Homo sapiens: one gene and its partner. The protein of the gene in region 1 purifies or fractionates together with the protein of each later gene. This does not show direct contact. Each region holds a gene or a part of one and is shown on either strand. Other genes may lie near its edges.

Region 1 (4,080 bases):
AGACCAAAGCTGTCACCTCCCTTAGACCTGATGCAAAGAAATAAAGTCTCAGCCTGGCAACCCTTGGCCAAGGCCTTTCAGAGCTAAGTGCAGAGACAGGGCTAGCATCGTTGTTTTTCCTCTATTTGGGGTGGGGGTTGGGGGCTTGGGGGAATGGTGCCTTCAGTCCACACTCACACTTCGACTCCCAGAAGGGCCTAGGGCTCTGTTCTCTCTACACCTGAGGACATTTACTCATAGTAAGGCCTACATCTGCCTGAGACCCAATGGAGGAAATGAGGGTGGCTGTATCTGGTCACAATGCCCATATTCTCCAGAGGCTGAAAGCTGTGGCTGGCAGGTTGAAGCCCTGTGATGTGTAGCCCCACTCATGGTCCTCACTCAAGGTCTCCAGTTTGACTCCTGGGAGGGCCTAAAATGCCTCCCACCCCTCCTGCTAACCCATCTGACTAAGACCTTCATTTCCCTGTTACTTCTGAAGAGGAATTTAGGGGCATTTCTGACATTTATGCTCGGGGCTTCCTAGCGCTGACATACAGAGGGACTCTGAGGGATCCCCACTGATGAGGTGGGAGTTCCCTCAAGTCCTCTCTATGAGGCCTGGCACAACCTGGAAATCCTCTCTCTACTGACCTGAGGCCCCTTACATCAGATTAAGATTCTCATTGCCTCATAGTCCCAAGATGAAAGAAAGCCTGAATCACATCCAGTCACCACGTCCTCTATGGGGCTCCACTGTTCTGGGGTCGTTGTTCTCTTTAGTCTTCACTCAAGCAGAGTCTGAGCTCCTCTCTAATCCCACTTGATTCTTCCAGGCTCATACAAAAGCCTTCACCTCTCTGAGTACCCAGGGCTAGTCTTGAGGGGATGACACATCTGGGTACTTCTGCCTGGGGTTTCCCAGAGCTGAGAGGGGGTAGAACTTGGTGAAGCCCCACTCTCTAGGTAAATGCTCATCTCATTCCTCCCTCAGTGACTTCTCTGTCTTGATCTAACGCCTATCCAGTCATACAAAGCACCCCCCGACAACTCCCTGAGGAAGAAGTGAAACTTTTCCCATCTGGCTACAATTGTCCATCATCTCCCAAGGATGAAAATCAGGAAGGAATTCCGTGTTTCTTTCACTGTTATGGGATGAGTGGTTCCCCCAGTTCTCAGGGTCTTCTTTTTGACTCCTGGAATTACCTAGGAATCCTCTAGCTGCTAACATAAGGCTGCCCCCTTTGATGAAGTTCCCCACTTCCCTGAGATGCTCTAGGAAGAAGTGAGTGAGACTCATCATGTCACCATACCTGGATCTCCCAGGTCTCAGTGGGGATAGGGCTCTATCTGTGTTACCTCTTTCTTGGAGGGGGTCCCCTCATACTCCCTCAGTGTCACCATCTTTTAGGAACTGGGCCTCCTCCCTGTACTAAACAAGGGCTTTCATGTTAAACCAAAGCCATTATGTACCTGAAACAGTACCTGAAGGAAATGAGGGGCATCTCAACTTGAGAGTTCTAACCCTGGCTTCTAAGGAATGAACGCCAAGGTAAGACTGTGTTCCTGCCTGTTCTGGACTAGACGGTTACCTCATTCCTCATAAAGAAATTGTACCTTGACACCTGTCTTGGCGTATGACTCCTATCTCTCTACTGAACTGGGGCAGTGAGGCCTTAAACCAAGGCCCTCCTCTCTCTAAGACTATGAAGGCAGAAGCCAGGGAGTACTTGAGCCTGCCAGCTCTGGCCTGGGACTCCCAGGGACAGCATCAGGCGCAATTGTCTCCCTCGTGTATAGAGTAGCCGCCATTTCCTCACTCAGTGTCTCCACCTCCACTCAGCACTCTTTCTGGGACTCCACCCATCAACTGCTCCTAACACCATGCCCCGTAGACAAAAGTTCTCATATTCCTTGGACCTAAGTTCACAGTCATAGTGGGCCACATCCCACCAAGGCTGACTGGGGCCTGCGTGTGCCGACAGCAGGAGCGGGACTTTTTTTTTTTTTTTTTTTTTTTCTTGAGACTGAGTCTCGCTCTGTCACCCAGGCTGGAGTGCAGTGGTGCAATCTCGGCTCACTGTAAGCTCCGCTTCCCGGGTTCACGCCATTCTCCTGCCTCAGCCTCCTGAGTAGCTGGGACTACAGCAGCCCACCACCACGCCTGGCTAATTTTTTCTATTTTTAGTAGAGACGGGGTTTCACCGTGTTAGCCAGGATGGTCTTGATATCCTGACCTCGTGATCCGCCTGCCTCGGCCTCCCAGAGTTCTGGGATTACGGGTAGTAGGGTTTAGGACTCCTCCCTCTATTGACCTGAGTCTATAAGGCTTAGGCCAAAGCCTTCGTCTCCCTGAGTCGCTGAAGAGACAGTCAGGGTGCTACCCATCTGGTTACCTGAGGCCTCCCAGGACCAAATGCAGAAGCGGGACTTAGAGGGGACCTCTTTGTTACGGGTGGGGGTGGTCTCTTCAATTTACACTCAGGGTCCTCACCTTGACTCCCGACCAGTCCTGAGAATTCACCCTCCGCTGACCAGACGCTGCACCCCACTCCTTAAGCTCGCTCGGGTCCTCGCCTTCAAAAGGGAAATGAGGATGAGCCACATCCGGCAGCCCAGGGCCTCTGAGGGCTGACGGCAGAGGCAGGACGCTACGGGACGTCACTGTTCTAGTGTCGCTGGTCCCTACGTCCCCACTAGGGTTCCTCACCTTAGTATCTAGCAGCCTGGGACGACTTCCGCCTGCTGACCCAAATCCGCCAGGCGGACACTGCGCCCTTACGCTCGCTGGGGTCCTCGCCTTCAAAGCGGAAGTCAGGATGAGCCACATCCGGCAGCCCGTGGCCTCCGGGCTGACGGCAGGGGTGGTACGCTTCTGGACGTAACTGTTCTAGCGTCGCTGGTCCCTACGTCCCCACTAGGGGTCCTCACCTTAGTATCTAGCAGTCTGGGACGACTCCGCCTGCTGACCCAAATCCGCCAGCCTCAAACAATAGCCCCACCTCTCTCAGCCCCCAAGGTGGAAATCTGAGCGTGCCACACAGGCCACCCCTGCCTGGGCCTCACAGGCCTGACAGCAGCGGCAGGGCTCTGTGAAAGTCCCGTTTTGGGCAGAGGCCTTCTCATCAGCTCTCAGAGTCCTCACCGTGACTCTGGTTTCCTCTCCAGGCAGAACTGAAGCTACTCCCTTCAGGCCCCACGCTCCCCATCCTCCATGAGACCTTCCAGGCGGAAATGAGAGGCACCTTAGGTAGATAGCTCTGTCTGATGCCTCAAAACGGGGTGAATTCTGTGGGGACTCATCTGCTGGTGGAGTCCCCTCTTAACACTTAAAAGCCCTACATTGATTCTTGTTAGGGTCTCGGCCTCTTCGCTCTGTAAAACTGAGGCTGCCCCAATTAGACGGAACCAGTCATCTCCCTGAGACTTTCCAGGCAGAATTCAGCCTGCCATCTCCGCCAAGGCTTCCTAGGGCTGACAGCAGAGGGGACTTTGTGAGGCCATGTGGGTGCTAGCTACCCTTAGTCCACATTCAGGTCCTCACCTTGACAAGTGAGCAAACCTGTAACTTACCCTTTGTTTACCTGAACCTGCTCCTCTCACATCAAGGTCCTGTTTTCTGAGAATTTCGAGTTGTACTCCTGGATGATCTTCATATGATCACAGTCCTTTTGCAACCTGCAAAAACAGATAATAAGGAAAGGACTCCATAGAACCCCACAGTTTTGGCTGGGTCCTTCCATCAGTCTTCATTTATGCTCCTCGCCTTTACATGTATCAGAACCTGGGACTCCTCTATCTACTGAACTGAGGTCACTCTCCTGAGGGTCTGGATGAACCCTTACATTTTGGAGTGGTTTTCTCCCCACCATTCATTCATGAGGGTTCTCATGTTGGCTTCTGTCTCTTGATCAAACTCTTCCAGGGAAATGTCACATCCCTGCAAAAATTTGACCAGTTTCCTCTTTGCAAACCTTGCAGAGAAGAGGTCCCTGTCCCAGAAGTGATGTGATGTTGGGAAACTGAAACGGAAGGTGGAGAGCCTAGGACAGATGTTGTGCTCTCAGGGAAAAAAACATGCTGATCTATTCCTTCACTTCA
Region 2 (3,338 bases), on another chromosome or scaffold:
TGTCTCTACAAAAAAATTAAAAATTAACTGGGTGTGGTGGTGTACACCTGTAGTCCCAGGTACTCAGGAGACTGAAGTGGGAGGATTATTTGAGCTCGGAAGGTTGAGGCCACGTTGAGCTGTGATTGTGCCACTGCACTCCAGTCTGGGTAACAGAATGAGATGAAAGAAAGAAGGAATGAAGGAAGGAAGGAAGGAAGGGAGTGAGGGAGGGAGGGAGGAAGAGAAAATGTGAATGGATGAATCTCATAAAAATAATGCACAAAAAAACAGATACAAGTGTGTATGTGAGAAAACATTTTAAATGGTCCATTTCTGAGGCATGATAAATCTAAGTACTGGCAGCCAGCCTGCAAATATAACAAACTGCAGGGCTCATCCACCTAGAAGGTCACAATAAGGGAACAGAATGTAGAGGCGGGGTCAGCCCATAAAAGGGAAGAAAGTGGCCGGCGCAGTGGCTCACGCCTGTAATCCCAGCACTTTGGGAGGCCGAGGCAGGCGGATCACGAGGTCAAGAGATCGAGACCATCCTGGCCAACATGGTGAAACCTCGTCTCTACTAAAAATACAAAAATTACGCAGGTGAGTGTGTTTCTCACATAGATAAAGTTCAGAATACAAACCAAACTAAACTACAGCATTAGGAATGCACCCTTAGGTGGTAAAATGAAAAGAAAAACAAGAAAGTGATTACCATAAGTATCAGCATAGTTGTTACTTCTGCGTAGAAAGGAAAGGATAGTGATAAGAAGAAGAGGAAGGGTTCTGGGATGCTGGAAATATTCCACTTCTTGGACTGTGTGGTAGTTAAACGGATGTTCACTTTGTGATAAATCATTCAGCTGTATATTTATGTTTTGTTTACTTTTCTGCATGTTATATTGCACAAATAAGATTCGAAAAACAAATGTCCAAGGTAGTCAATGCAATGTTAAAGATAACACGAAAAGACTGTAATTACAAAGCTTTGGTAGCTAGGACGATCCGTATGGATGAAGACAGGCAAAGGAATGAATGAAAAACAATTTAAAAATCCAGAAAAGACCATGAATCTAAAATATCTTGATATATAATAGAGGTGGCACATAATCACTGGAGAACAAAGAGAAACACCCTAGGACAGAACCTTGAGAACGCCTACAAGAAGCGATCTTGTAAGCGTTCCTCATAAACATCAAACTGGTTGAAATGTCCCCCGCCCTTCGTCGTTGGGATGTTTCAGATGCGTTGGCGCTTCCCGGCCTCGAGGGGGCATCTGGAGAACGGCGGGCGCCGGGAAAGTACGCATGCGCACTGCTCCCAGGGTTTGCGGTAAGAATCTATGCTCTCGCGCCCGGTTACGCACACTGCATTTACAGCGCGCATAGCGCCCACGCACGCGCACTGGGGTGTCCGCCGGGCATCGCTCTGTCCAGTTATTCCAGTTTCTCTGGGAGCAGCCGAGTTGACCCCACGGTCTGAGATGTCCAAGCTGCCCGCAGACAGCAGTGTCCCGCAGACAGGCGCGGCGAATGGTGACAGAGACGTCCCGCAGGCGGAGGTAGGCCGCGGGAGGCGGGAGCCGGCCCCGGCACAGCCTGAGGAGGCCGGGGAAGGCGCGATGGCGGCGGCCAGGGGAGGCCCGGTGCCGGCGGCCAGGGAAGGTCGGATGGCGGCGGCCAGGGCAGCCCCGGCGGCGGCAGCCAGGGGAGCCCCGGTGGCAGCGGCGGCGTTGGCCAGGGCAGCCGCGGCGGGCAGGGAAAGCCCGGCGGCGGCGGCGGCCAGGGAAGCCCGGATGGCGGAGGTCGCCCGCTTGCTGGGGGAGCCAGTGGACGAAGAGGGTCCCGAGGGCAGGCCCAGGTCCAGACACGGGAACGGAGGCCTGGCTGCGTTGCCCTATCTCCGTCTCCGCCACCCACTTAGCGTTTTAGGCATCAATTACCAGCAGTTTCTCCGCCACTATCTGGAAAATTACCCGATTGCTCCCGGCAGAATACAAGAGCTTGAAGAACGCCGCAGGCGATTCGTGGAAGCCTGCAGAGCAAGGGAAGCAGCGTTTGATGCCGAATATCAGCGAAATCCTCACAGGGTGGACCTCGATATTTTAACCTTTACGATAGCTCTGACTGCCTCTGAAGTTATCAACCCTCTGATAGAAGAACTTGGTTGCGATAAGTTTATCAATAGAGAATAGTTATGTGGTGACACTACTTCAAGAGAACCTCTGCATTCCAGTCATACCAATCCTGCAACTTGATTTTCAGAAGTCAAGAGTATATCGCGATAAGACAGTGCACAGGTGGAGGGGAAAAAAAGGGGGAGGGGGAAGCTTATCTTGAAAAAGCATCACAGAAGTAGAAAAAAATGTCGAAAGCATTATAACTGTAACGTTCTTTGAGTTTGTGATTGATCCACATTTTTCCCCCTGCATTATGGAAAATGTCTCTCAGCATTGCTTTATTACAAAGTAAAGGATGGTTTTATAAAATTGAGACTGATGAAACATCAATACTAGAGCCCATGAGGATGAAAGAAATTATCAAATAGTGCTGAACAGAATAAGATGTTAACGCTGAGTTATTAGGACTGGAAGGCTATGAAAAGAACTTGAAATTGTCGGAATATGTGCTCTCTTCATGTCATATTCAATAGAAGTTTCTAGTTTAAGATTGATTTTGTGTTTTCTTAGGCATTTCAAGTGACAAGCAAAGTAAATGTATATATTATGTGATAAATCATGTTTTCAAGAACGTCAAATTTCTGGACTTTTTTCTTTCAATTTTTAATTTTTAAAGTTTTTTTGGTATTAAAAAATCTATTCACAAGCCAAAAAATATATAAAATATACAGCGAAAAGCCTTCCATTCTTGTTTTCCTCCATCCAGTACCAACGATGACCTCTAATAGCCACAGTTTCCTTTCCGTCCTTCTAGTTTCCTTACGTGTACACAGGCACATATAAATCTGGGTTTACTTGTTTTATTTCTTCACAGAAGTCGGCATATTATATTTACTGGTTTATACATTGCTTTCTCATTAAGAACATATGTTGACCCTTCCAAACCACTGTATTTCCTCATTATTTTTTAAAGTGGCATTTTATTCCATTCTGAGGTTATGTCCAAATTTACTTAACCAGGGATATATTGACGGACATTTAGGTTGTTTCCCATCTCTTTCTTTGGGCAGAATAAAAAATTGCTAGAGTAGTTCATCTTGTACAATTGCTAGAGTAGTTCATCTTGTATATCATGTGGCATGTGCACAAATATAGTATTGCTTCAATTCAAAATTCACTTCATATTTGAACATCTCTGAAATGTGGGTGCATCTTATATTTGATGCTGTAATAGATC

What was found.
Region 2: the proteins of MAGEB1 (region 1) and EID2 purify together in Homo sapiens (affinity purification with western blotting, with the first as the bait; one study listed by BioGRID). This does not show direct contact.

Annotation. Positions count from the first base shown.
Region 1 is NC_000023.11:30,245,866-30,249,945, reverse strand, and holds the start of MAGEB1 (melanoma-associated antigen B1), read right to left. Parts: upstream 2,801-4,080; 5' UTR 2,690-2,800; intron 2,557-2,689; exon of another isoform or gene 2,474-2,556; intron 1-2,473.
Region 2 is NC_000019.10:39,538,207-39,541,544, reverse strand, and holds EID2 (EP300-interacting inhibitor of differentiation 2), read left to right. Parts: upstream 1-1,383; 5' UTR 1,384-1,465; coding exon 1,466-2,176; 3' UTR 2,177-2,838; downstream 2,839-3,338.